Linked DNA regions of Homo sapiens: all the other regions are linked to region 2. The links come from fine-mapping of genetic effects on gene expression. A gene starts in region 2. Each other region holds a variant in brackets. All regions are shown on one strand. Distances are from middle to middle. Region 1 holds the start of MIR6871 (microRNA 6871). Region 2 holds the start of LPIN3 (lipin 3). Region 3 overlaps TOP1 (DNA topoisomerase I).

The links.
Region 1: its variant is fine-mapped to the expression of LPIN3 in whole blood (TOPMed, PIP above 0.99).
Region 3: its variant is fine-mapped to the expression of LPIN3 in Th1/17 cells (Schmiedel 2018, PIP 0.95).

The regions. Positions count from the first base shown.
Region 1 is chr20:41,163,858-41,172,034 of GRCh38, forward strand. It overlaps PLCG1 (phospholipase C gamma 1), which reads left to right. Exons shown (of 32, transcript NM_002660.3): 11 at 64-149; 12 at 224-344; 13 at 1,076-1,244; 14 at 1,388-1,510; 15 at 1,593-1,694; 16 at 1,782-1,969; 17 at 2,337-2,537; 18 at 2,619-2,738; 19 at 2,822-3,002; 20 at 3,995-4,072; 21 at 4,910-5,013; 22 at 5,222-5,318; 23 at 5,600-5,669; 24 at 6,255-6,412. MIR6871 (microRNA 6871) reads left to right here and starts at 5,166; the gene lies at 5,166-5,221. The variant T/C (reference allele first, on the strand shown) is at 4,216.
Region 2 is chr20:41,337,806-41,345,982 of GRCh38, forward strand. It overlaps LPIN3 (lipin 3), which reads left to right and starts at 3,016. Exons shown (of 20, transcript NM_022896.3): 1 at 3,016-3,197; 2 at 7,991-8,177. The coding sequence starts at 7,999. RefSeq lists an enhancer at 2,628-2,677 and a silencer at 2,838-2,997.
Region 3 is chr20:41,036,671-41,044,847 of GRCh38, forward strand. The region is part of intron 2 of TOP1 (DNA topoisomerase I); the gene reads left to right. Among named protein-coding and RNA genes, the nearest start is that of TOP1, 12 kb to the left of the region's middle. The variant C/CAA (reference allele first, on the strand shown) is at 4,767.

The DNA.
Region 1 (8,177 bases), 170 kb before region 2:
CCCAGCTTCTTCCCCAGGAGGGCCCATCTGACCATACCTACCTGCCTCTCCTTGCCTATCCAGGTACCTGACCGGGGACCAGTTCTCCAGTGAGTCCTCCTTGGAAGCCTATGCTCGCTGCCTGCGGATGGGCTGTCGCTGCATTGAGTGTGCGTGGGGTCCAGGGCTGGGGGAGGGAAGATGGGAGGCCTGCCCGCTTGACCATGGTGATGTTGCTCCCCAGTGGACTGCTGGGACGGCCCGGATGGGATGCCAGTTATTTACCATGGGCACACCCTTACCACCAAGATCAAGTTCTCAGATGTCCTGCACACCATCAAGGAGCATGCCTTTGTGGCCTCAGAGTGAGTCGGAGGCTGGATGACCCAGGGGTTAACTTGGCTCCAGGTCTCTCGTTCTAGAGGGACAGAGGGCAGAAAGACTCCTCAAATGCCCTGTCCCCTCTCCCTCAGCCTTTCATCTTTGTCCTTCCTCTTGGCCTCTCCTCGTCACCTGCTCCCTGCTTGAGCTGTTGCTTCCCAAGTTACACTTTCTGTTTCCTACGTGTTGGGCCCACTCTCTTCTTCATGGGTCCTTTAGACTGTAGAACACATGCTCTTCTCATCTTCAGAAAACATGCCCTGGTTTCTTTAGGCCAGTGTCCTGCCAACTCCTTTGCCCTCACAGCCCAGAAGATTGTCTCTGTTCCCTGTGTCCCATTCCTTCAATTCTGTTTACTGCTTAAACTGTGGTCACTGGTCTCCCTTAGCTCACCAGGGCTCTAACAGCTAACTTTGGAGGCTTCTCCTCTCTCCTGGCCTCTTTGGTGTGAAACATTTTTCTTGCACTGCTGAGCAGCCTCCATAATTGGGCCAGCTCGGGACTGCATCAGTTGCCACCCTTTGGTTTCCACTGCTGCCACAGCTGTAGAACCCCTCTCTGCCCCACCAGTGGCTATGGCCTGCCTCTTTTCTGGGATAGTTTTTACAGACAAGAAGCCCCCAGGCCCTTGGCTTCCAACAGCTCACTGTGAGGGGCTACTTAGACCCAGAGAATTGCAGAATCTGTTTCACTGTGCTTGTCCCCCATCCCGCAGGTACCCAGTCATCCTGTCCATTGAGGACCACTGCAGCATTGCCCAGCAGAGAAACATGGCCCAATACTTCAAGAAGGTGCTGGGGGACACACTCCTCACCAAGCCCGTGGAGATCTCTGCCGACGGGCTCCCCTCACCCAACCAGCTTAAGAGGAAGATCCTCATCAAGGTGGGGTGGCGGGCTTATTGCGGAAGCCCCACACTTCTCAGTGCCTTGCCCAGGCCATGGCTTCAGCTGTTGGGCCTAAACCTGGGTGAGGAGGTGGGGTGAGGACTGGGGTCTGCATTGCCCTGTTCTGGTTGCCCCTACAGCACAAGAAGCTGGCTGAGGGCAGTGCCTACGAGGAGGTGCCTACATCCATGATGTACTCTGAGAACGACATCAGCAACTCTATCAAGAATGGCATCCTCTACCTGGAGGACCCTGTGAACCACGTGAGGACTGGGCCAGGCTGGGGGTGGTAGGCCAGTGGGTGTGAGGACCCTGGCTCACAAGTCCCTCTTTGGTCTGTTCCAGGAATGGTATCCCCACTACTTTGTTCTGACCAGCAGCAAGATCTACTACTCTGAGGAGACCAGCAGTGACCAGGGCAACGAGGATGAGGAGGAGCCCAAGGAGGTGAGGAACCAGCTCAGGTCTGGGGGCTGGGCCAGGTCAGGCCTGGGCCAGGGTCACAGTATCTTTGCTGTTGCCTTCCCCTGACAGGTCAGCAGCAGCACAGAGCTGCACTCCAATGAGAAGTGGTTCCATGGGAAGCTAGGGGCAGGGCGTGACGGGCGTCACATCGCTGAGCGCCTGCTTACTGAGTACTGCATCGAGACCGGAGCCCCTGACGGCTCCTTCCTCGTGCGAGAGAGTGAGACCTTCGTGGGCGACTACACGCTCTCTTTCTGGTAACACTTCCCATGCAGATGCGTATGTTCAGTCAGCGTGTGTACACAGACATCACATCACCCAGAGATAATCAGTTAACATTTGAGCCTTTGATCCAGGACAATAATTAGGCTTTACATGGAACATAATTTCACCTACATACACACACACACTCTCTGTCTCACCCCCCCCCCATACCCCTCCCTTTTCGGTTCATTTGAAGCCCACACCTTTGGTTCATGTGACTGCCCACACCTGAGCTCCTCAGGAGATTGGCCTCCCTCCTTGAGGCTCCCTCCTTGAGTTCCACCCTCATTTGGGGTGGAACTTGGTCTTTGGGGCCCTGGCCTGTTTTCCCCAGCCTCCCTCACTCTGTGTCTTCCACAGGCGGAACGGGAAAGTCCAGCACTGCCGTATCCACTCCCGGCAAGATGCTGGGACCCCCAAGTTCTTCTTGACAGACAACCTCGTCTTTGACTCCCTCTATGACCTCATCACGCACTACCAGCAGGTGCCCCTGCGCTGTAATGAGTTTGAGATGCGACTTTCAGAGCCTGTCCCACAGACCAACGCCCACGAGAGCAAAGAGTGAGGGAAGGGCCTGGGGGCGGACAAGGCAGGGCAGGGCCATGGGTGGTGCTGGCCGGGCCTGACTCTGCCTGTTCTCAGGTGGTACCACGCGAGCCTGACCAGAGCACAGGCTGAGCACATGCTAATGCGCGTCCCTCGTGATGGGGCCTTCCTGGTGCGGAAGCGGAATGAACCCAACTCATATGCCATCTCTTTCCGGTGAGGGGTGTGGCACTGGGTTGTGGGGCCTTGCTTGGGTCTGAGCTGCCCTGACCCTGTGTGACTGTTTTGTCCTTGTGAAGGGCTGAGGGCAAGATCAAGCATTGCCGTGTCCAGCAAGAGGGCCAGACAGTGATGCTAGGGAACTCGGAGTTCGACAGCCTTGTTGACCTCATCAGCTACTATGAGAAACACCCGCTATACCGCAAGATGAAGCTGCGCTATCCCATCAACGAGGAGGCACTGGAGAAGATTGGCACAGCTGTGAGGGGGCTGTGGTAGACGGGGCATGGCAGGGGAGGCAGGAGAGACCCAGAATCTTACCAGTCTCTGGATGTGTGTAACAGCAAGACCTGGTGTGTTGTAGAAGTTCGTGGGAGGGCCCCTGACTCCAGCTGGGAGCCACAGTGTGGGTACCAGGAGGGTGTCTGCAGGAGGGGACATCTGAGCAGCATCTTTAAGGATGGGGACAGGCACATAAGCAGAGGGTTCCTCATGAGTCAAGATGTGGAGTGAGGAGGTTCTGGGGCTCACACTGGGAGAGGTGCACACAGTGGAAACTCATCCACCTGGGCTTGGCCTGGACTCTGTCCTAGGGCAGATGAGATGAGGCTACCCAAGAGTGGTTGTGGAGCCTCCGCCTGGTGGATGGTATGGAGGGCAGAGCCACAGGAGGTGAGACCAGTGAGGGAAAAAGTCAGGACCCATGGCAGCACAGCTGGTGATAAGGGCCCTGGACAGAAGGAAGGGGTCTAGGACCAGAAGATCAGTTGAGAGACTGCTGTCGTCAGTAGACAGGGCTGGCTGGGGAGAGAGAGGCCTGTTGTCCACTGGCACCTGGGACTCAAGTGATGGAGAGGAGCGGCAGGAGGAATGTGGGGAGTGGGAAGGCTTTTCCTGACTTTGGGCTCAGCAGTGAACCAACAAGCCACTGAACTAAAGCACTGAATATGGGTAGTCTGTGAAGGGCCCACCTGCACATAGCTCAGAAATACTTGGGAGTTTGGGCATTTAGGACCTGAGAGATTTTAGAATCCTGGGCTGGGCCTTACATGTAAGAATGTGAAGAAAGGAAAGGGAACAGTGAGGCCGGGCCTGAGGCCTCTGAAGCCGTCTCTACTGAGGTCGAAGGATCCCTGTGGATCAGGTGCAAGTTTGCTGCACTGGGGGAAAGGGAAGCTGCTCCAGAAACCAGTAGCTGCTTTCTACCTCTGGGCTCTGGGGCATTAACATATCCCATTGTGTCCTGTTTCCAGGAGCCTGACTACGGGGCCCTGTATGAGGGACGCAACCCTGGCTTCTATGTAGAGGCAAACCCTATGCCAACTTTCAAGGTACAGCTCAGGCCTCTGGGCATAGGAAGCTGGGGAGGGTCCCCAGCTGCTTGGGGCTTCATTTCTGTGTTCTGGGCCATCTGTGGTCTTTGTGGAGAAGTGGTGGTTGTGGTTTTCCGAGGCCCAAGAGGTTGTGAGAGATG[T/C]GTGGTTGGTGAGCGACCGCAGGTCTCCCAGGGCCGACCCACTCCCTAGCCCCTACCCCTTAAGTCAGCAGTGACCCTTTAAACTGCTCCTGTGGGTGACCCCTGTTTCCTTCCTGGGCAGCAGCGGGGTAGGAGCTGGGAGGCACACTGGCCACTCATTCCCCGGCCTCATGGAGCCCTGTTACACAGGTTCTTTTTTGTTTTGCCTTTTTCTCTAAAAAGGCCTGGGCCCTATTTCTCACCCCCTCCCCTCCACAGCCAGGGGACCTGGAAGGAAGTTTTTCTTTCCACTTCACAGATGAGTGGTAGGGTCCCATCCAGGCCCCATATGCTTCCAGGTCCCGGGGAGGCACTCAGGGCCACTGCAGACCCTGCCTTCTTGGCCTGCCAGCCCTGACTCCTGGGAGCGGATTCAAGGTTCTCCCTGTGGCCCAGGGTGGGGCTTAAGGTTCCACCTGGGTCCCGAGGTATTTCACTGGCAGAGGCCCTGCCTCTCTGATCATATCTGTCCTGGAGCTTCCCTGCAGGGCAGTAACAAGAACTATAACTAGGGCCTGTTGATGGCAGTGTCATCTCCCACTGGCCTGACCCCAGGCAGGGAAGCCCAAGCACATGTGTGTGTGCACATGAAGCCCCAGGTTGGCAGTGGCAGGGAGAGCCTTTCTGCTCTGACTGGTGCTTCTCACCTCTGCAGTGTGCAGTCAAAGCCCTCTTTGACTACAAGGCCCAGAGGGAGGACGAGCTGACCTTCATCAAGAGCGCCATCATCCAGAATGTGGAGAAGCAAGAGGGAGGCTGGTAAGCCAGTGGTGTGGTAGGCCCAGAGTCCAAGGGCCCCAGTGGAGCTGGGGCCCCAAAGACATGCATTTGTGATGTGCTTGTCTCCTGTGTGCACCAGCAGTGCCTGCCTCACCCTGGCTTAGGCATGGGAACCCCTACCAAAGGATACCCTCCTCATGGGAGTTCGGGGTGGTTGCTGGAGGTCAGCACCCTGTGGCTCCCACAGGTGGCGAGGGGACTACGGAGGGAAGAAGCAGCTGTGGTTCCCATCAAACTACGTGGAAGAGATGGTCAACCCCGTGGCCCTGGAGCCGGAGAGGGAGGTAAGACCAGAACCACCTGAGTAACAGCATTCCCTATTCCCAGATTCTCCTTGGCATGCCCCCATCACACAGTCCCAAGCACGCACGTGCATGCACAGACACCTGTCACATGGGCTGGTCGCACAGCCCATGTGGCCATGCACGTAGTCTCCCATATACCTGTGCTACATTTGGCAGTCACAGGTACACCCACAAGATGTATTTGTCCCATGCACACGGATATCCCCTCACACACATATGCAGTAGCCATGCTGACCATTGGTGGGCTTTGCTTCCCACAGCACTTGGACGAGAACAGCCCCCTAGGGGACTTGCTGCGGGGGGTCTTGGATGTGCCGGCTTGTCAGATTGGTGAGCTCCCATCTGTTTCTCTTGCCCACTGTTCCCTAGGGTGAGATTCTTCTTTGTATCTCTTTCCTGCTCCTAGGGAGGAAGCTGATGGCTGAACCCCAAAGTCTGCCCTCACTCCAAGCTCTCCCCATGCTCTGGACATCCCCTTGACACCCTGGGCTCCCTTTGTCACTGTCAGCTTTGACCCCTGCATGTTTACCTATGCCAGGCACTGGGGAACCCGTCAGAATCAGCAGAACAAAGTTGATGCTGCTGGTTGGCTGACATCCCCAGGCCTAATGGGTTGTACCACAGGGATGTGACAGAGGCTTGGAGATGGGGTGGAGAGGGAGACACGGCCTGAGGAAGAAGCATGAGTCAGAGCTGAGTTGGAACACTGGCTCCACCACAACCAGCAGTGACTTGTTTGAGTTGTAGCGTCGTCATCTGTCAAATGGGCCAGCAGAGTAGTCCTTCCCCTCATGGGGTGTGGGAAGGAGGAAATGGGATGAGATAGAACTCATTTGAGCCAGTGCCTGCGGTGTGGAGTGGGGTGGAGGGGGTGAGATGTCTATTCCCAGCTGTTATCTGCTCTCGCCCTCCCAGCCATCCGTCCTGAGGGCAAGAACAACCGGCTCTTCGTCTTCTCCATCAGCATGGCGTCGGTGGCCCACTGGTCCCTGGATGTTGCTGCCGACTCACAGGAGGAGCTGCAGGACTGGGTGAAAAAGATCCGTGAAGTGGCCCAGACAGCAGACGCCAGGGTGAGATTCTGCTGGAACCTTCTGGGGGGCAGTGTGTGGGCCCGTCAGGCAGCTGAGGCCTCCAGCTCCCAGCACAGGCCCCCTCAGAGCAGTGGGGCAGCCGATGGCCTATGCTAGATAGGCCACAGCCCCTGCCTTAGCTAGGGATTGAGAAGAAACAGACACATAAGATGCAATGTGGTGTGTTTAGGTTGTGTTGAGTTTGAGATACTGATGGGTCGTTGAAGTGGGTCTGCTTAGTGGGCAATTGGATACACAAGACCAGAGGTAAGAGGAGAAGTCCTGGGCTGGAAGCAGGAGTGGAGTGGGGGCTGAGGCATAGAAGGGATGAGGTGGTGTCGCATAGGAAGAGAACTTGGGATGGATTGAGAAGCTCCATATGAGAAGGCATGGGCGAGGAAAGGAGCCCAGGAAAGGCAGGTCAGACAGACTGCAGGCCACTGGTGAGGGAGAGGGTCTGCTGTGTTGAGAGCTACAGAGGTAAAGACAGGAACGATAAGAACTTGCAAGTGCCCTTTGGATTCAGCAGCAGCTAATAGCCCTTGTGAGACTTTTGAGCTGCATCAGCAGCATGGCTGGCATTAGATGGCAGTGGGCAGCAGGGAGTCTGGAATGGCAAAAGCAGAGCCTTTGTAGGGCCTGTCCTTGAGGGAGAGAACAGGTGACTGGGGTTTGAGCAGGCTCTCATGCAGATGGCTGAAAGGAGCGAGCAGCGTGTGGGAGGAGATGGAGCCCAAGCTTAGCTGGTAGGACCAGCCTTCTGGAGAAGGTGGCCTCTTCCCCTGAGCCTGGGGGAACAGAGAAGTATTCTCAAGGGTTAGGGAATTCCTACTTGGTGGCCCTTTCACCAAGTGCATTTGGTAGATGGGTCTGTAGCTGCTTTGGAGAGGGCACCCGCAAGCCAAATAGAGAAGGGATAGGGTGCTTGCCAGGCTGTCCCCTAGAAGGAAAAGGTGCTGGCATACCAGGTGGTTGAAGGACTGGATCTGGGGGTCTAGGCTGAAAAGGGAAGAGTCTGAATGTAAGAGCCACTGAGGCCGGGCGTGGTGGCTCACGCCTGTAATCCCAGCACTTTGGGAGGCCGAGATGGGCAGATCACTTGAGGTCAGGACTTCGAGACCAGCCTGGCCAATATGGTGAAACCCTGTCTCTACTGAAAATACAAAAATTAGCCGGGCATGTTGGCCGGCACCTGTAATCCCAGCTACTCGGGAGGCTGAGGCAGGAGAATCGCTTGAACCCGTGAGGTGGAGATTGCAGTGAGCCGAGATCACGCCACTGAACTCCAGCCTGGGCGACAGAGCAAGACTCTGTCTCAAAAAAAAAAAAAAAAAAAAAAAGCCACTGAAAGAAAGTCCTCCAGGAGAGGATGGGTTGGGGTGCTTGTAAGTGGGCTTCTGTAGAGATTTGGCATGGAGATTTGCCATGAAGAGTGGGTGGTTATATTTGAGTTGGGGGCGCTGAGGCAGTGAGGATCATCCTTAGGACACAGATGGAAACCAAGCCAGGGGCCTGTATCCCCAGTGCAGTCACAGGTAACACAGAAGAATCATTTTTACCCCAGCATGAGGCTGGGTAATAAATGGTCAGAAAGTGTCATTTGGGAGTGTGGCCAATTCCAGGATCCCTGGAAGGTCACTGGGAACATGGGTGGTGATGAGGAGTCTGTATCCCCCACCCCCCCTAAGAGGGTTGGAGGGCAAATGTGTCCTCTGGGACAGAAAAGAGGAAAGATGATTTCAGGATGAGGCTGAGGACAGAGCTC
Region 2 (8,177 bases):
AATCCCAGCTACTCATGAGGCTGAAGCAAATAATCGCTTGAACCTGGGAGGCGGAGGTTGCAATAAGCCGAGATTGTGCCACTACACTCCAGCCTGGGCAACAGAGCGAGACTCTGTCTCTAAAAAAAAAAAAAAAAAAAAAAAAAAGCCAGGTGTGATCATGCATGCCTGTGGTCCCAGCTCCTCGAGAGGCTGAAGTAGGAGAATTGCTTGAGCCCAGGAGGTCAAGGGTGCAGTGAGCTGTGATTGTGCCACTGCACTCCATCCTGGGTGACAGAGCCAGACCCTGTCTAAAACAAAACAAAAAAACAATAAAACACATAAGCTACCAAATTCTGTAAAGAAGGAAGTACCACCTGCATTCTTGGATTAATGAAGAAACAAACAGCTGCCAGTGATATAGGCTCATCCGATGAGTATACCCAAGCAGAGGAAAAAATGGCCTCCACCTTCAACCCCAGAAATGGGCAAACACAAGTGTCCATGCTGCTTGCACCCTCAGAGAAAGCCCTGGAGATGGTGATGTCAACCACAAGCTAGAGTGGGACAGTCTCTGCCTTATTCAGTTCCATTCAGTGTTAGAACAAGTCATACTAGCAGAGGCTGTTCTATCTGCCTTTCTTCTCCTACCCTCATCACCAAATCCCAGATGATTGAGAGTTCCAGAAACGAGCCTGTCAGAAATGCAATTTTTCTTTTTCTTTTTTTTTTTTTTTGAGACAATGTCTTGCTCTGTCACCCAGGGTGGAGTACAGAGGCGCCATCTCAGCTCACTGCAACCTCCACCTCCTCGGTTCAAGTGATTCTCCTGCCTCAGCCTCCTGAGTAGCTGAGACTACAGCTGTGCACCACCATGCCTGGCTAATTTTTTTTTTTTTTGTATTTTTAATAGAGACGGGGGACCGAGCGCAGTGGCTAACGCCTGTAATCCCAACACTTTGGGAGGCTGAGGTGGGTGGATCACGAGGTCAGGAGATCGAGACCATCCTGGCTAACACAGTGAAACCCTGTCTCTACTAAAAATACAAAAAATTAGCTGGGCATGGGGATGGGCCCCTGTAGTCCCAGCTACTCAGGAGGCTGAGGCAGGAGAATGGCGTGAACCCGGAAAGTGGAGCTTGCAGTGAGCAGAGATGGTGCCACTGCACTCCAGCCTGAGTGACAGAGCGAGACTTCATCTCAAAACAAAAACAAAAACAAAAAAACAGAGATGGGGTTTCACCGTGTTGGCCAGGCTGGTCTCCAACTCCTGACCTCAGACGATCCGCCCACCTCTGCCTCCCAAAGTGCTGGGATTGCAGGCGTAAGCCACCTCACCCCAGCCGCAAATGCAATTTCTGCAACAACCTTTATATCAACTTTTTTTCCTCTAACAATGAACAATGAAAACAATTTGTGCTCCATCTTTAAAAATGTGTGACACAAAAATTTTTTAAATAAAAATAAATATGTGATAAACATTCCTGAATGCCTAGTGTGTGCCCTGGCGCTGTGCTCTGCATTTAATTTGGATCAGCAGTTCTCAGCCTTGTTTGTACATTACAACCAACTGGAGAGGTTTTTAAACTCCCAGTATCCGGGGCATCAGTATTCGTCTAGGGCACAGTGATTCTAACACACAGTCAAGGTTGAGAACCACTTATTTAATTCATCCTGTAAATCCTCACAATAGAATCCTGCAAGGTAGCTTTTATCACCACCTTTGCCGATGAAATTGAGGCTCAAAGAGGTAAATTGATTTCGGCATCTGTAGCCCCAACCTGTGACCTCTCCTTCCTTCCTTCTCGGGCTCCCTTCAGGGATTTCCTGATGTTACAGAAAATGGTATGTATGACGCTGCCCTCCTGGCCACCTTGACATAGCTCTGCTCCCAACAGGGCTCTTCTGAGATAGCAGCCAGACACTACCTGGGATCAGGACTGATACTAAATGACTTCTGCCAAAATGAGGACAACTGAGGCCAGTCACTTCCAAACAGGTTCTGTCACCCTGAGTCAGAATAATGGCAGCTACCTCTCCTCCTCACCGCCCAGTCGTTTCTAAGCCTGGCTCGTCGCCGTTGCTGCTCCGCCAAGCCTTTCCTCGGTGCCCTCTCTCTTTTAGAACAAATTACTTCATCTCCAGGCCCTTCTCAGGGCAGCTTCTTTGCAGGGGCCATAGGGCGTCGGAAAGGTCTTTGGTCCAGGAAAGCCGCGAGCCACAGATCCAAGAGGAAAAAGCCGTTCCCGGCCCGGGCCTTGCCCAAGGCACGAGAGTAAATGCACCTTCCGCGTGCCTCGGCGCACCTGGGCTCACCTGTCCCCTCCCGCAGTGCCTGCAGACAGGGAGGGAGCGCGGCTGGGCCAGAAGGCTGATCACCGCCTGCCCCCTGCTGGCCAGTGTCAGTATTGAGCCCGCTGCCGCTCGACCAGAACGTCCCAGGGATGGAATGAAGGTGCGGGCATTTATGGAGCGCCTGCTGTTTGTCAGGCGAGGTACTGATAAGCGCTGGAGTGTAAGGATGTACGTGACCTGCTCTCAGAGTTCAAATTTAAATGAAGAGATATACATTAATCAAGTAGTCATTCAAGCAAATATGAAATTACAACTGTGGGCTATGCGAACAGATGACGCGAGGGGCCTGTCCAGTCTGGGAGATACGGGTGGGTTCAGGAAAAGCTGCCCCCAGGAGGGGACGTTTGAGCGCCAGGAGCCGCGCAAAGTCATTTCATGTCATCTCTAAAATCCTGCAAGGCGGCTTTCCCCCTTGACAAAACAGGAAATGGGATCAAATTGAGGAAGGAATTCACCCAAGATCACACAGCAAGCTGGAAGCAAATCTGGGAGGAGCTAGGTCCGCCCCGTTCCGAAATCCACACTTTTCTGGAGGTGGGGCAGGCGGTGGCACAGGGACTTGGGGCGGGGTCTGGTGGGCGGGGCATGAAGTCTGGCCCCGCCCCCGCCTCCGAGGCCAAAGGGCGCCCTGGGCGGGGATCGGAGCAGGGGCGGGGTCTTTCCAGGGAGTGGAGCCTGGGCAGATTGGGGCCTGTGGAGGCCGCACTAGGATCGTAGAAGGAGTGGAGCCGTGCTCTCACCCTGTCTTAGAGGACCCGGAAGCGCCAAGTGACTGAGGGCCGAAGACACTCACCTGTGGAGCCTGTGCACGTAGGTAGAGGCGGCGGCTCTGAGTCCAGGAGCTCCAGTGGGCAGCTCCCCAGGTAGGGCCCAACTCGGGGGGAGAAGAGATGACCCTCTCCCCTCCCGCCCTGCCCATCTGTCCTGCCATCCTACATTCCTTCCTTCCTGTCCGCGGGCCTGGGTCCACCCCTAGCTGTAAGATGGGGACGCAGGGGTGGAGGGACTGGCCTCATTTTGTCCCTTTTTCCCTGGCCCAGCGGCTGCAGGCCCCCTGGACACCCAGAACGTAGAGTCTGGAGAGGAGACGTCGAAACCTCCCAGGGGAGGCTGGCCCAGCTTTACCCCAGCCTGACTGTGTGACCTTGAGGAGGACAGCCACTTTCTCTGGTACCCAGTGTCCTCAGTTGCAAAACAGTGACTGGCCCTTGCCCTGCTTGCCCTGAGACTGGGCAGATCAGATGCTGTAGCTGCTGGGGGCTGGGGTGGCGCTTTCTCTCTACTGGGGCACTAGGAGTGCTTACTCTCCTGCTCCCTCTGGTCCTCGGTGGAGAGCCACACCCTTCATCCACCCAAACCTGGGAGCCCCGAGGGCTGAGAGCCTAGTCCTAGGGCAGCTTGCTCTGGCTTCCCTGTGCTAGAGTTGTAGTCTAGCCTGGAAGGCCTGTGAACATCCCCAAGGTGGGGTGTGAGGCCTACGTGGAGTGCACATGCTCGTTTTGCAAATAGTGGTGCCACCATTGTGCATGGCCTTGAGTGCCAAGTTAAGAAGTCCAAACTCCGCTGGGCGCGGTGGCTCACGCCTGTAATCCCAGCACTTTGGAGACTGAGGCGGGTGGATCATGAGGTCAGGAGATCGAGACCATCCTAACACGGTGAAACCCCGTCTCCACTAAAAATACAAAAAATTAGCCGGGTGTGGTGGCACACGCCTGTAGTCCCAGCTACTCGGGAGGCTGAGGCAGGAGAATTGCTTGAACCCAGCAGGCGGAGCTTGCAGTGAGCCAAAATCATGCCACCGCACTCCAGTCTGGGTGACAGGGCAAGACTCCATCTCAAAAAAATAAATAAATAAAAGAAGTCCAAACTCTCAACTGCTGGCAGGGGCAGTTCATCAGAGTATGACCTGCAGTGCCCACAGGACCAGCCTGCATGAGTGGGGCTGTCATGATGCTGCTGCTGATAGGTGTACATACAGGTTTTTATTGCATTCCAGGGCTTTACACAAAGTCATTAGTTACTCACACGTGCCTGATGTTATTCCCATTTTGGAGGCTGAGACTGAGGGTCAGAGAGATGAAGTCACTTGCCCATGGTCACAGCTAGCAAATGGCGGAGTGGGGATCAGCACCCAGATAATCTGGTGCCTTTTCTCCTAATGTCCTGTGGCCACCCGTGATCTGGGCATCTGGTTATAAAGTCTTAACCTAGGACAGCTGGAGAAAGGAGGGGCTGGATGAGCAGGAAATTGGGGGAGAAGATTCAGAGGGCTAGGGAGGGAGAGAGGGGTAGTGACTAGTCCTAAGGGGTATTCGGCTTCCTGGGAAGGTGTGAGGAGTGAAGTGGCTGATTTTAGACATGTTAGTTTGTGGGTGGAGGGTGATAGAGGGGAGCCAAGCAGAGCTCTCCTCTGTCTGGAAAAGAACAAGGAGGTAGAGCTGGGTCCTGGGAAAAGGGGGTGCCTAAGGGATAGGTGAAGACAGAGGCGGGCTCACAGAAGGCCCCCAAAATGCTGAGCAGGCAGATGTGGGGGGGCTCACTGGAAGCCCCCAAAATGCTGAGCAGGCAGATGTGGGGGGCTCACAGAAGGCCCCCAAAATGCCGAGCAGGCAGATGTGGGGGACATCCATTGGTGAAGTGGGGGGAACAGAGAGAGGAGAGAATTCTGGACTCCCGTGACATTAGATCTGAGGGAGATGGGTCTAAAAAACTGAGGCCTTGGTTCACAGAAGGGGAAACTGAGGCCAGCCAGTTACTTGCCTGAGAATACTCCAGGGCTGGATCCGAGTAGGACCCCGGGTGCCATCTCTGCTATTCGGCCCTTTCTACTAGATCGTGGTTCTCAGCTGGGGGCAATTTTGTCCCCCAGGAGACATTTAAAAATGTCTGAAGACAATTTGGCTGTCACAACCTGGAGCTGCGGGGGATGAAGTGCTACTGGCATCTAATGGGCAGAGACCAGGGATGCTGCTGAATATCCTACAGTGCACCCACCCACCCCCCAGCAAAGAATTATCTGGCCCCAAAGGACAGTAATGCTGAAGCTGAGAAACTGCACTAGGGCTTAATAGGGCAGAAAGCTCAGGCTTGGGCCTCCAGCTGGATGGACCTTTGCCCCAACCCCGGCTCTGCCCCTCCCCATGCTTGCTCCTTAATTCCTGGAAGCCTCTGGAGTCCTCTCTGCTTTTCCTGGGCACAGTGGTTTAGAGGTCTGCCCACCAAGTGTCTGTCACCACTCTGTCTCCCCAGACCTGTATTCAGAGTTTGGCATTAGGTAGGGAGAAACCAAAGTGGAAATGTCCCATCTAGCACATGGCAGGTGCCTTGCAGATAAACTTGATTTGAGTGACATCTTAGGGGTCCAGGGAGTTTCATTTCATCCCATTTTCACTTTGGCAATTTGAATTGTGTCTTATGTTTGTGACGCTCTGACATAGACTGAAAGAATCCACTGCTTCATCCGATGTCCTAGGATGGGCAGGATGTGGCATTATCTGAGAAATGCTGTGGAGGTGGGGGTCTTGTCGTTTAGGCTCTTCCAAGAGTAGACTGTGGACTGGGAACACAAAAGCAGTTCCTTTCAAACACATGAAAGGCTGCAGGAATCACCTCGGGATCCTGTTAAAATGCAGATGCTAGGCCAGGTGCAATGGCTCACGCCTGTAGTCCCGGCACTTTGGTAGGCCAAGGTGGGAGGATCACTTGAGTCCAGGAGTTTGAGACCAACGTGGGCAACATAGTGAGACCCTGTCTCTACAAAAGAAATTTAAAAGTTAGCCAGTTATGGTGGTACATGCCTGTAGTCCCAGCTACTCAGGAGGCTGAGGCAGGAGGATCACTAGAGCCTGGGAGGTTGAGGCCGCAGTGAGTCATTTTGGTGCCACTGCACACCAGCCTGGGTAACAGAGTGAGATCCTGTCTCAAAAAAAAAAAAGAAAAGAAAAGAAAAGAAAAATATGCAGATGCTGATTCAGTAGGGCTGAGTTGGGCCTAAGTTTCTGTTTCTAACAAGCTCCCAGGTGATGCTGATGCTGATGTTTGTTGCTGGTGCATACCACATTTTGAGTGCAGGGCATTGCAGGGCTGTGCAGAAGTGGCCATGGGCCATGCAACCAACTCTTGGGTGGTTTGGAAGCATGGAGTGGAAGGAGACCATGCTCTAGAGTCAGGAGAGCTGGATATGAGTCTTTACTCCCTCTCTCCCCTCCCTATACCCCTTCTATGGCCTGTCAGCTTAGAAGAGCTTGAATAGTTTCCTCACCTGTAAAGTCACTTAACCTTGGGTAAGTCACTTAGCTTCTTTGCTAAGTGGTCTTGCATGGCAGGCTGTCCTCCAGGGGTTCTGACCCAGGGTCTGAGAGAAGAAAGTGCTCTGTAGAGATAGGACAGTCTGGGTCTTGGCAGGCAGAGGGGCAGCAGGCCACTGGCCTGGCCAGGAGGGCAGGGGTGATCACCTGAAGCTGCTGGGGCAGGCACTGTGCCAGCTTGGAGGAGGCTCTCATCATAGCCCTGTTTTTTCTCTGAGGCCGCCTCAGCCTCCTGCTTTGGGCTTACCCAGGCCTGTCTGGTGTGGGAAAGCTGGAGAGACCGGTCTGGCTGGGGGAGGGAGCAGCTTCAGTGGGCTGAGGCCAGCCCAAGGCCTGATTGTGGGTCTGAGCGCCTAGCCAGCTCAGCCCTGGTCTGAGGAGCTGGGGTTAGGGTTGAAATTGGGGTCTGAGAACTATAGCCTGGACACCGCTGGGGTCAGGCTGTGCATGGACAGGCTTCCCACCAGGGAAACTGGGAAGGAATTTGTAGTTTGGGGCCTTAAGCCCCCAGCTATAGGGGATGCTCTGCCTTGAGCATCTGACCCCAGGAATGGGGCTGAACAGAGCCTTGAGTACCTGGGGTGCTCCCACCCTTGGTCCCCCATAAGTCAGCTACAATCGCCCAGCAAGACACCTTCCAACTCACAGGACCAGCAGATAGCAAGACAGCTGAGCCCATTTCTCAGATGGAAAAGTGGAGGCTCCTTCGTTCCCACTTCTTGGGAAAAGAAGAGTACTCATTAGCACAGTCACCCATTATCCAGCAGGGCCCTGGGCCTGCTATCTAATGAGGCTGCCCCCTCTTCCCACCCCCTCCGTTTTCACAGTTGGACCATCCCAGTGGAACCACACAAACCTGGGTTCAGATCTCAGGTTCCCTCCTTCATAGTTATGAGGCTCTGGGCAGGTCACTCCACCTCTCTGAGCCTCTGCTGGCTCATCTGTAAACAGGAATAATGACACCCGCTCAGCCAGCCCCACAGGGTTGTTGTGAAGATGAAATGAGCCGTACCCACGGAACACTGTGGTCATTATCATTAGTCATGGCATTTAGAGGCACGAGGCAACTGGGTATTGTTTTACCTTGTGCCCTATTTTACAGATGTGGACATCGGCACTTGGGGAAGGAGGCGGCTGCCCAAGGGTCCCTTAGCAGGGCAGTGGGCAAGCTGGGGTTAGACCCACATCTACAGGTGTACCTCCCATCGCACAGCTGCTGCCATCTGTGCAAAGGCACTCCAAGGCGTGACACAAATGTAAACTTGGGGGTCTGTGTGGTCAGGCTGCAGGAGCTTCTTGTGGAGGAGCTGGAGCAGACCTTTGTGCAAGCCACTGCCTTTCTTTGCCAGCACCAGCCATGAACTACGTGGGGCAGCTGGCGGAGACGGTGTTTGGGACGGTGAAGGAGCTGTACCGGGGCCTGAACCCAGCCACACTGAGCGGCGGCATTGACGTGCTGGTGGTGAAGCAGGTGGACGGCTCGTTCCGGTGCTCACCCTTCCACGTGCGTTTTGGCAAGCTGGGCGTCCTGCGGTC
Region 3 (8,177 bases), 300 kb before region 2:
TTGTAACATGTAACTAGTGTTGTTGAGTCTTTACCTAATTGAATCAGCAGAGCCTACACTGATGTCTTCCAGTTACAAAGCGGTCACTGTAAAGTAAAAGGTGTCTTCATATCTAGGTTTGGGCTGAGAAGGATCCAATTGTATATCTAGTTCCTACTTTTCTTTTTTTTTTTTTTTTGAGATGGAGTCTCACTCTGTTACCCAGGCTGGAGTGCAGTGGCGCAATCTCGGCTCACTGCAAGCTCCGCCTCCCAGGTTCACGCCATTCTCCTGCCTTAGCCTCCTAAGTTGCTGGGACTACAGGCGCCCGCCACCACGCCTGGCTAATTTTTTGTATTTTTAGTAGATACAGGGTTTCACCGTGTTAGCCAGGATGGTCTCGATCTCCTGACCTCGTGATCCACCAGCCTCGGCCTCCCAAAGTGCTGGGATTACATGCATGAGCCACCGCGCCAAGCCTAATTCCTACTTTTCTAAGAATGTTTACAGCAAAGTGGTCATTGCCAAAGGAACTTGTAGCAGTACAGAAGATGGGCTCAGAAATGAAAGAAGTCTATTGATGTGACTAATTTCTCAACCATTTAATAGAATTATGGATTTTCTATTAAAAATAACTTGACCCTTTTCGATGCATTTAATAAAATGCCAAGTTCATTATTTGTTAATTTTTTAAAACCACAAAATTCAATATGTCTTGTGTCAGCATATTTTTTCAAAGGCCACTATTTTACTTCTCCCCCAAAACGTTTTTAAATTAAACAGAGAACTCTCAAAGCACCTGAGAATTACTTCAGTTTTTCATTTATTCAAATAGTTGCTTAAAGTGACCAACTTGGTTTTCTTTGAAATAGTAATTCTTGGGAATAAGAATACCTTAAATAATATAATAAAGCTTATGTGTGAGAATTTAGTACCAAATGCCGTGTTAACAGTTATGCGTGAGTATAGGCATTTGGGAGATTCCATGAAAAAATTTGATAAAGTCAGTAGAAATTTCAGTAATGGCTCATAAGTCTAGCTAATGCTGAATATTGAATTGCCTTGAATTTGTTTTTTTGGAAGTGTTACTTAAAGGAAATAAACAAAAGTCATTTAAGGATGTGTTCACTAGTGTTCATTAGGTTTAAGCCAAATGGATCTTAGTAGAGATCTTACGCCATTCAGCAAAAGGATTATCACAGAAGCATCACAACAGGCGCAGACTTAAATTCAATTAAAAGTAGGCAGGAGGACATAATTTTGTTGTATAGAAATTATGGAATAGGGCCTAATTTTAAAGAGTCTTCAAAGATAAACATATCAGGAAAAATATAGCTCATAAAATATGGGGAAAAAAATCTGGGAAGATGAGTATTTGTTAATGCTCTGTAGCTCCATTGCCCTCAGTATACAAGGAATGTGCCCACAATAGGGTTGGATTTAAAAGTCTTCAAAGCTTTGGTCTCTTTTTCTTTCGTTTTCCTCTGATACAGAATGCGAATAGTCTCCCGGCCTCCAACCCCCTCTACATCCCCACCACCCCATAATAGAGACTTAAAGGGAATTTAAATTCGAGTTCTTGAGCTTCTGCTCAATGGCTAGGTCTTTGAACAAGTTAATATCAGAGCCTTAGTTCTTCACCTATAAAGTAGGTTTAATACTTACCTTACAACATTGAGGATTAAAGAGCATGAGAGGATTACTTTATGAAAGGTGAAGCTTAGAACAGAATTTTTAGTTCCTTGCCAATGCTAAAAAACAACAACAACAACACCTTTTTCAGAAATTGCTTTATTAGGCTTTTGTACAAAGGGAACATCTTTACTTTCTTTAAATTTGCACATATATCTATTGTGAAATTTTAACCAAGCTGGAGGGGTCACTAGGGAGCATTGAGTATGATACTATTGCTGTAAATCATAGAAAGGCTGGCTCAGGAGGGTACTGACTTGCTTTGACTTTGCGGCAACTTCAGTTGTCCAGTGACAAGGCTTGCTGCATACACACCACTTTGTTTGTTTCTCATACCTTAAATTGTGGATTAAAAATCTTTGGGGCAGGCCTGGAGGCTCATGCCTATAATCCCAGCACTTTGGGAGGCCGAGATGGGCAGATCACTTGAGCCCAGGAGTTCAAGATCAGCCTGGGCAACATGGGAAAAACCTGTCTCAACAAAAAAAATACAAAAATTAGCCAGGTGTGTTGGTGCATGCCTGTAGTCCCAGCTACTTAGAAGGCTGAGGTGGAAGGATTGCTTAAGCCCCGGGAGGTGGAGGTTGCAGTGAGCCGTGAGCATGCCACTGTACCTACCCCGTTTTGGGCAACAGAGTGAGACCCTGTCTCAAAAAAAAAAAAAAATCATCATCATCTTTGGCAGTGATTAACTTTCTCCTTTCACACTTGGGATGGTGCAATATTTGGCATCTACTTAGGAAGCTAAAATTTTCACGTTTAATTGTAAATGGAAAAGTTTAAGTTGCCATATTCATTCATACAAACATTCAGAAAGTGAATATTGTGACTAGACACAGATGAACAAGACAAACCCACATGCCTATCAGGATGAACTTTGAAATTAGTACGTTGTAGGTATATACAGTCACTTCCTCTGTTGAGATTTTTCATTAGGCCTCAGTACAAAGGCTGCTGTCATACAACATGAATGGGGACTGGAGGTACTTTCTGGCAGTTAATATTTCACTATCAGTGCAAGAGAGTGACGTCTCCATTTAGTCCTAATCGTGAGTTTTTCCCCCCTTAAAGAAATTGGAGACCTAGGACCTTGGATTTCCAAAGATTTCCAAACTCTTATTTCTTAAAATGTTACAAAAAATGGTTTTTTTTTGTATACCTATATACCCATTAAACTTTTTTGCCTGAAATAGGCAAAAAGATTTAAGTTCTGTGTATTTATTTCCTGTTATCTTTTTGTATCAGACATCCATGTTGCATGAATTTTAGAAAAATAGTTTTCAGCTGGGCTTGGTAATGGCTCATGCCTGTAATTCCACCATTTTAGGAGGCCGAGGCGGGCGGATCACGAGGTCAGGAGATCGAGACCATCCTGGCTAACACGGCGAAACCCCGTCTCTACTAAAAATACAAAAAACTAGCCGGGCGTGGTGGCGGGCGCCTGTAGTCCAGCTACTTGGGAGGCTGAGGCAGGAGAATGGCATGAACCCAGGAGGCGGAGCTTGCAGTGAGCCGAGATTGCGCCACTGCACTCCAGCCTGGGCGTCAGAGCGAGACTCCATCTCAAAAAAAAAAGAAAAATAGTTTTCACATTTCCTGAGCAGGTAGGTTGTCGGAATGGCTAGAGATGGTCACATTCTGTGTGAGAAATCATGTGACAATAGCTAATTCAAGTATTTGAAATAATTTAAATCCTTGAACTGAATTGATTGAAATAAAGTATTTAAAATCACCATCTTCACATATTTGAAGAACTAAAATCTTAGAGAATAAACTCTACTTAAAGTCCTGGGAAACTAATTTTATGAAACTATTGAAATATTATTGCCCCTTCCTAATCCATGAAGTATCTTGATATGGGTAATACATAAAAGCTGTTAAAGCTCTTCAGAGAAAGATGCAGAGTACATAGTGGTATTACTTACAGTGGTTTGAATACTAGAAAAGTGATCGGGACAAAATGTTAGACTTACTGTGCCTTAATCATACAGTCAGTGCATTTTTGCAGGAATGGATGCAATGTAAGTAGTTCTTACTATTTAATACCAGAAATGAAGAAACAGTAGCTTCTTAGGAATTGATTGTGGCTCAGGATCTATTTCTTAATTTTTAATGCTTCCACTTAACCAGGAGAGGAAAGGGAGGAGAAGGAACACAAATTTGTTAGTCTTTATAACTACTGGCTTGTTACACTTGATTTCCAAACCACAAGTGCTCCAGGGCCAGGCACCCCACACTGAGAAGTCCCTAAGAAGTGCATTTATTGGAAATTTGATTTTTAAAAAAAACCTCATCTCTACTAAAAATACAAAAGATTAGCTGGGCCTGGTGGCGCATGCCTGTAGTCCTAGATACTCAGGAGGCTGAAGCAGGAGAATCACTTGAACCTGGGAGGCAGAGGTTGCAATGAGCCGAGATGGCACCACTGCACTTCAGCCTGGGAGACAGCGAGGCATCGTCTCAAAAAAAAAAAAAAAAAAAAAGACCATGTTAGGTTCTGTTTAAGTAGTATTTCTTATACCCTGGAATGAATGAATGCCTCTTAGTCTTTAGAATTTCATAAGGTTTAGCTAGGTATACTCAATACTTCTCCATTTTACTACATATTTTTAGGAAGGCACTAGGTATTGTGAACTCCTTGAGAGTTCTAAACATCTCAGAGCCTGTTTGAGTATTGATGGCATAGTCACAGATACTCCATTTCCTTTCTAGGGAAGTCTGCCTGCATTACCACGTAACCCCAAGCCAGAAGTGTAACCACTTTTCTCTGACTTGCATTGAGCTTTTGTTATCCTCTTTTAATATTTCATTCTGTAGTAGTCTGTATTTATGTGTTTTCCTTATTAAGAAGTGGCCAGCACTTTGGGAGGCCAAAGTGGGTGAATTGCTTTAGCCCAGGAGTTCTAAAGCAGCCTGGGCAACATGTCGGGACCCCGTCTCTACAAAAAAATAACAAAAATTAGCCAAGCATGGTGGTGTGCACCTACAGTCCCAGCTACTTGGGAGGCTGAGGAAGGAGGATCAGTTGAGCCTAGGAGGTTGAGGCTGCAGGGAGCCATGTTTGCCCTACTGTGCCCCAGAACGAGACCCTGTCT[C/CAA]AAAAAAAAAAAAAAAAAAAAAATTAAGAGCACTGTTTCATCCTGTATGGTCAATACAGATGCTTTTACCAAATGTTTCAGTTGTGAAGTGCAAACTCCTTTCTCCCCCCAGCTGGTTGAAGATCAAGTGGGAGACTTTTGAGAGCTTAACAGTAAGTTTTCCTTGTTTTTCTCAAGCTGATATGCCTAAAAGTCACCTGGGGATGATTGGTGAAAATACATATTCCTACTCGTACACCTTGAAGTTGATTCTATAGTGGAAGGTACTGAAAATCTGCATTTTTAATGTATCTTCAACAATCCCAAATGATTCTGACTAATGCAGGTGACCCATAACCTCCTTTGGAGAAGTTGATCTATCTGAACTTTACTATCTTATTTGGCTAAAGATCTATATTTTGCTTCATTCAATTACGATACTCCACAGGTTAAGGTATAAAGCTTACAGGGTGATGATGATGATGATGATGATTATTATTATTATTATTTGGAGACAGAGTCTCCCTTTGTCGCCCAGGCTGGGGTGCAGTGACACGATCTGGGCTTGCTGCAACCCCCACCTCCTGGGTTCAAGCGATTCTCCTGCCTCATCCTCCTGAGTACCTGGGATTACAGGCACACCACCACCACACCTGGCTAATTTTTGTATTTTTAGTGGAGACGGAGTTTTGCCATGTTGGCCACGATGGTCCCAAACTTCTGGCCTCAAGTGATCCGGCTGCCTCAGCCTCCCAAAGTGCTTAGATTACAGTAGTGAGCCACCGTGCCCAGCCAAGATTACAGGATATTTTTAAAGGACCAGAACAGTATTTTTTAATATATGTTTATAAAAGCTTGATACTTCACTCTAAGTTATAGTTTCTACCTTTCAGTGAGCATTTACCAAATAGCAGATATAGTTAACTGCCTTTGCAGCTGTTTTACTGTGTGTCAGAATCCTAATCCTTTCTCCTACTTCAGTGTTTAACAAGCCATTTAATTCTGATGTTACTTTTTCGGATTGGGTGACAAGCAGAGCACAATGAGCAGGGTTTGTTTTCATACTAATACTAGGATGGTTAAATCAGGACTTTAGAAAGTAAGTGGAATAATTTAGTGGAATACTGAAAATCCAGTCTGTGGAGCTCACTGCCTTTAGATTAAATTAGTTGGGGACTTCAGCTCCTGATGGTACTGATTGAAATGGAAGCATTTGAATAAAGCAGTATAGTTGACGCTTGAACAACACGAGGGTTAGGGATGCTGACTCCTATGCAGTCAAAAATTCGAGTTATAACTTTTGACTCCTCGAAAACTTAACTAATAGCCTACTGTTGACCAGAAGCCTTACTGATAACAGAAACAGTCAATTAACACACATTTTGTATGTTATATGTATTATATACTATGATCTCACAATAAAGTAAGCTAGAGAAAAGGAAATATTAAGAAAATTGTAAGGAAGAGAAAATATATTTACCATTTATTAAGTGAAAATGGATCATCATAAAAGCCTTCATCCTCATTGTCTTGTTGAGTAGGCTGAGGGGGAAGAGGAGAGTTTGGTCTTGCTGTCTCAGGAGTAGCAGAGGAGAAAGAAAACCCTCATGTAAGTGGACTCAAGCATTTCAAACACATATTGTTCAGGTGTCATCTGTGGTTCTCAATGTGTGGTTTCCTGATCAGCAGAACTGCATTGTTTGAAAACTTGTTGGACATGCAGATTCTCGGGCCTCACCCATACCTACTGACTCTTAAACTCTGGGAGTAGGGTCTTAGCCATTTGGGTTTTAATGAGTGTCTACCAGGTGATCAGATGTGCACTGAAGTTTCAGAACCAATAGAATAGAGCAAGATACCAGTTTTGTAGTAATTCAACCTCTTAAGCAGTATTCCTTGTTCTTTCACAAGGAACCATGTATGGAGTTCATTACTTGTGCTTTCTTACAGTTGTGAAGTTGGAGTAATTCATAATCGGGGGAGGATCTTCTGGAGTATAAAAAAATTTAAGGAGCAGTTATATGATTAACACCAGAAAGGTTTCTTGTATTTCTACTGAATATATGCCACTTCAGTAGGAGAGGTGTGTTCAGTCTTATTCTTTCTACAGCTAGTGGCCCAGAGAATGGCCTGCGCATTTCAAGCCCTGTCAATGAGAATTGTCTAGACAAAGAAGGTCCCTTGGTTGAATTAGTAATAGGATACATGAAACAATGTGTCAGCACACTTAAAGTCTTTATGGCCAGACAAAGTATGGTCTTAGTGTGTTTGGAGGCCCCTGACCATTGGAAACAAAGGCAGTTTAGGCTGAGCTGTGGATCCGCACGTAGGCCAGAGGTTTGTAGTCACTCTCACTCTTCCCAGGCATTAAGCGTTCCTTAATGGAAGCAAAGGAGGACAAGCCTACAGGAATGGGCCTGCCCTAATTGAGCTGGCCTGAGAAGATACATTTTCAGGTTAGACAAGTCCTTTTTCCCTTTTAAGTTCTGCCTCTTGGGAAAGAAGATGCATTTGTAGTGCAGGGATGTCCTTGTGAAAATGTGACTTGTTATAGAGCAGTATTTGAAATGCAAGTGCCCAGCCGGGCGTGGTGGCTCACGCCTGTAATCCCAGCACTTTGGGAGGCCGAGGCAGGCGGATCACCTGAGGTCGGGAGTTTGAGACCAGCCTGACCAACATGGAGAAACCCCATCTCTACTAAAAATACAAAATTAGCCAGGCGTGGTGGCAGACACCTGTAATCCCAGCTACTCGGGAGGCTGAGGCAGGAGAATCGCTTGAACCCTGGAGGCGGAGGTTGCAGTGAGCCAAGATCATGCCATTGCACTCCAGCAGGGCAACAAGAGCAAAACTCCTTCTCAAAAAAAAGAAAAAAAGAAATGCAATTGCCCATCTTAAGGGTCTTGTACTAGTTAATTACTTTCAGAGATAAGTAAAAAAATTCCAGTGTTGTCTTCTATTAAGAGAGCAAAGGTAGTTAGTAAAAATGGGATTTGTTTGCCCTGCTCCCGAAGCTTAAAATAATTGCTCTATCTCAGTTTTGTCTTATGCTTCGGCAGACTAATAACTTCAGTTGAAATGTTTTCTGGGCAGGTGTTCATTGAGGGCCTGATTCTCCAGAGGTTCTGTGCAGAAGCAGGCTGCTTTGAGATAGCCAGCTTAGCCAGGCCTGGGAACCACACAGAATAGTGCAGTACCATGTAGGGAAAAGTCCTTGACTGGGCTGCAATAGGCAGAGTGGAGAGTGCTAGGAAGCAGAGTATTTTCCTGGATAATTTCATCCAGTAGAACTTTTTGTCATGATGGAAATGTCCTATATTTGTGCTGTCCAATATGGTAGCTATTAGCCATATGAGGTGTGTCTGTGTGTGTGTGAGTGAGAGAGAGAGAGAGAGACAAGAGTCTTGCTCTGTCATTCAGGCTGGAGTGCAG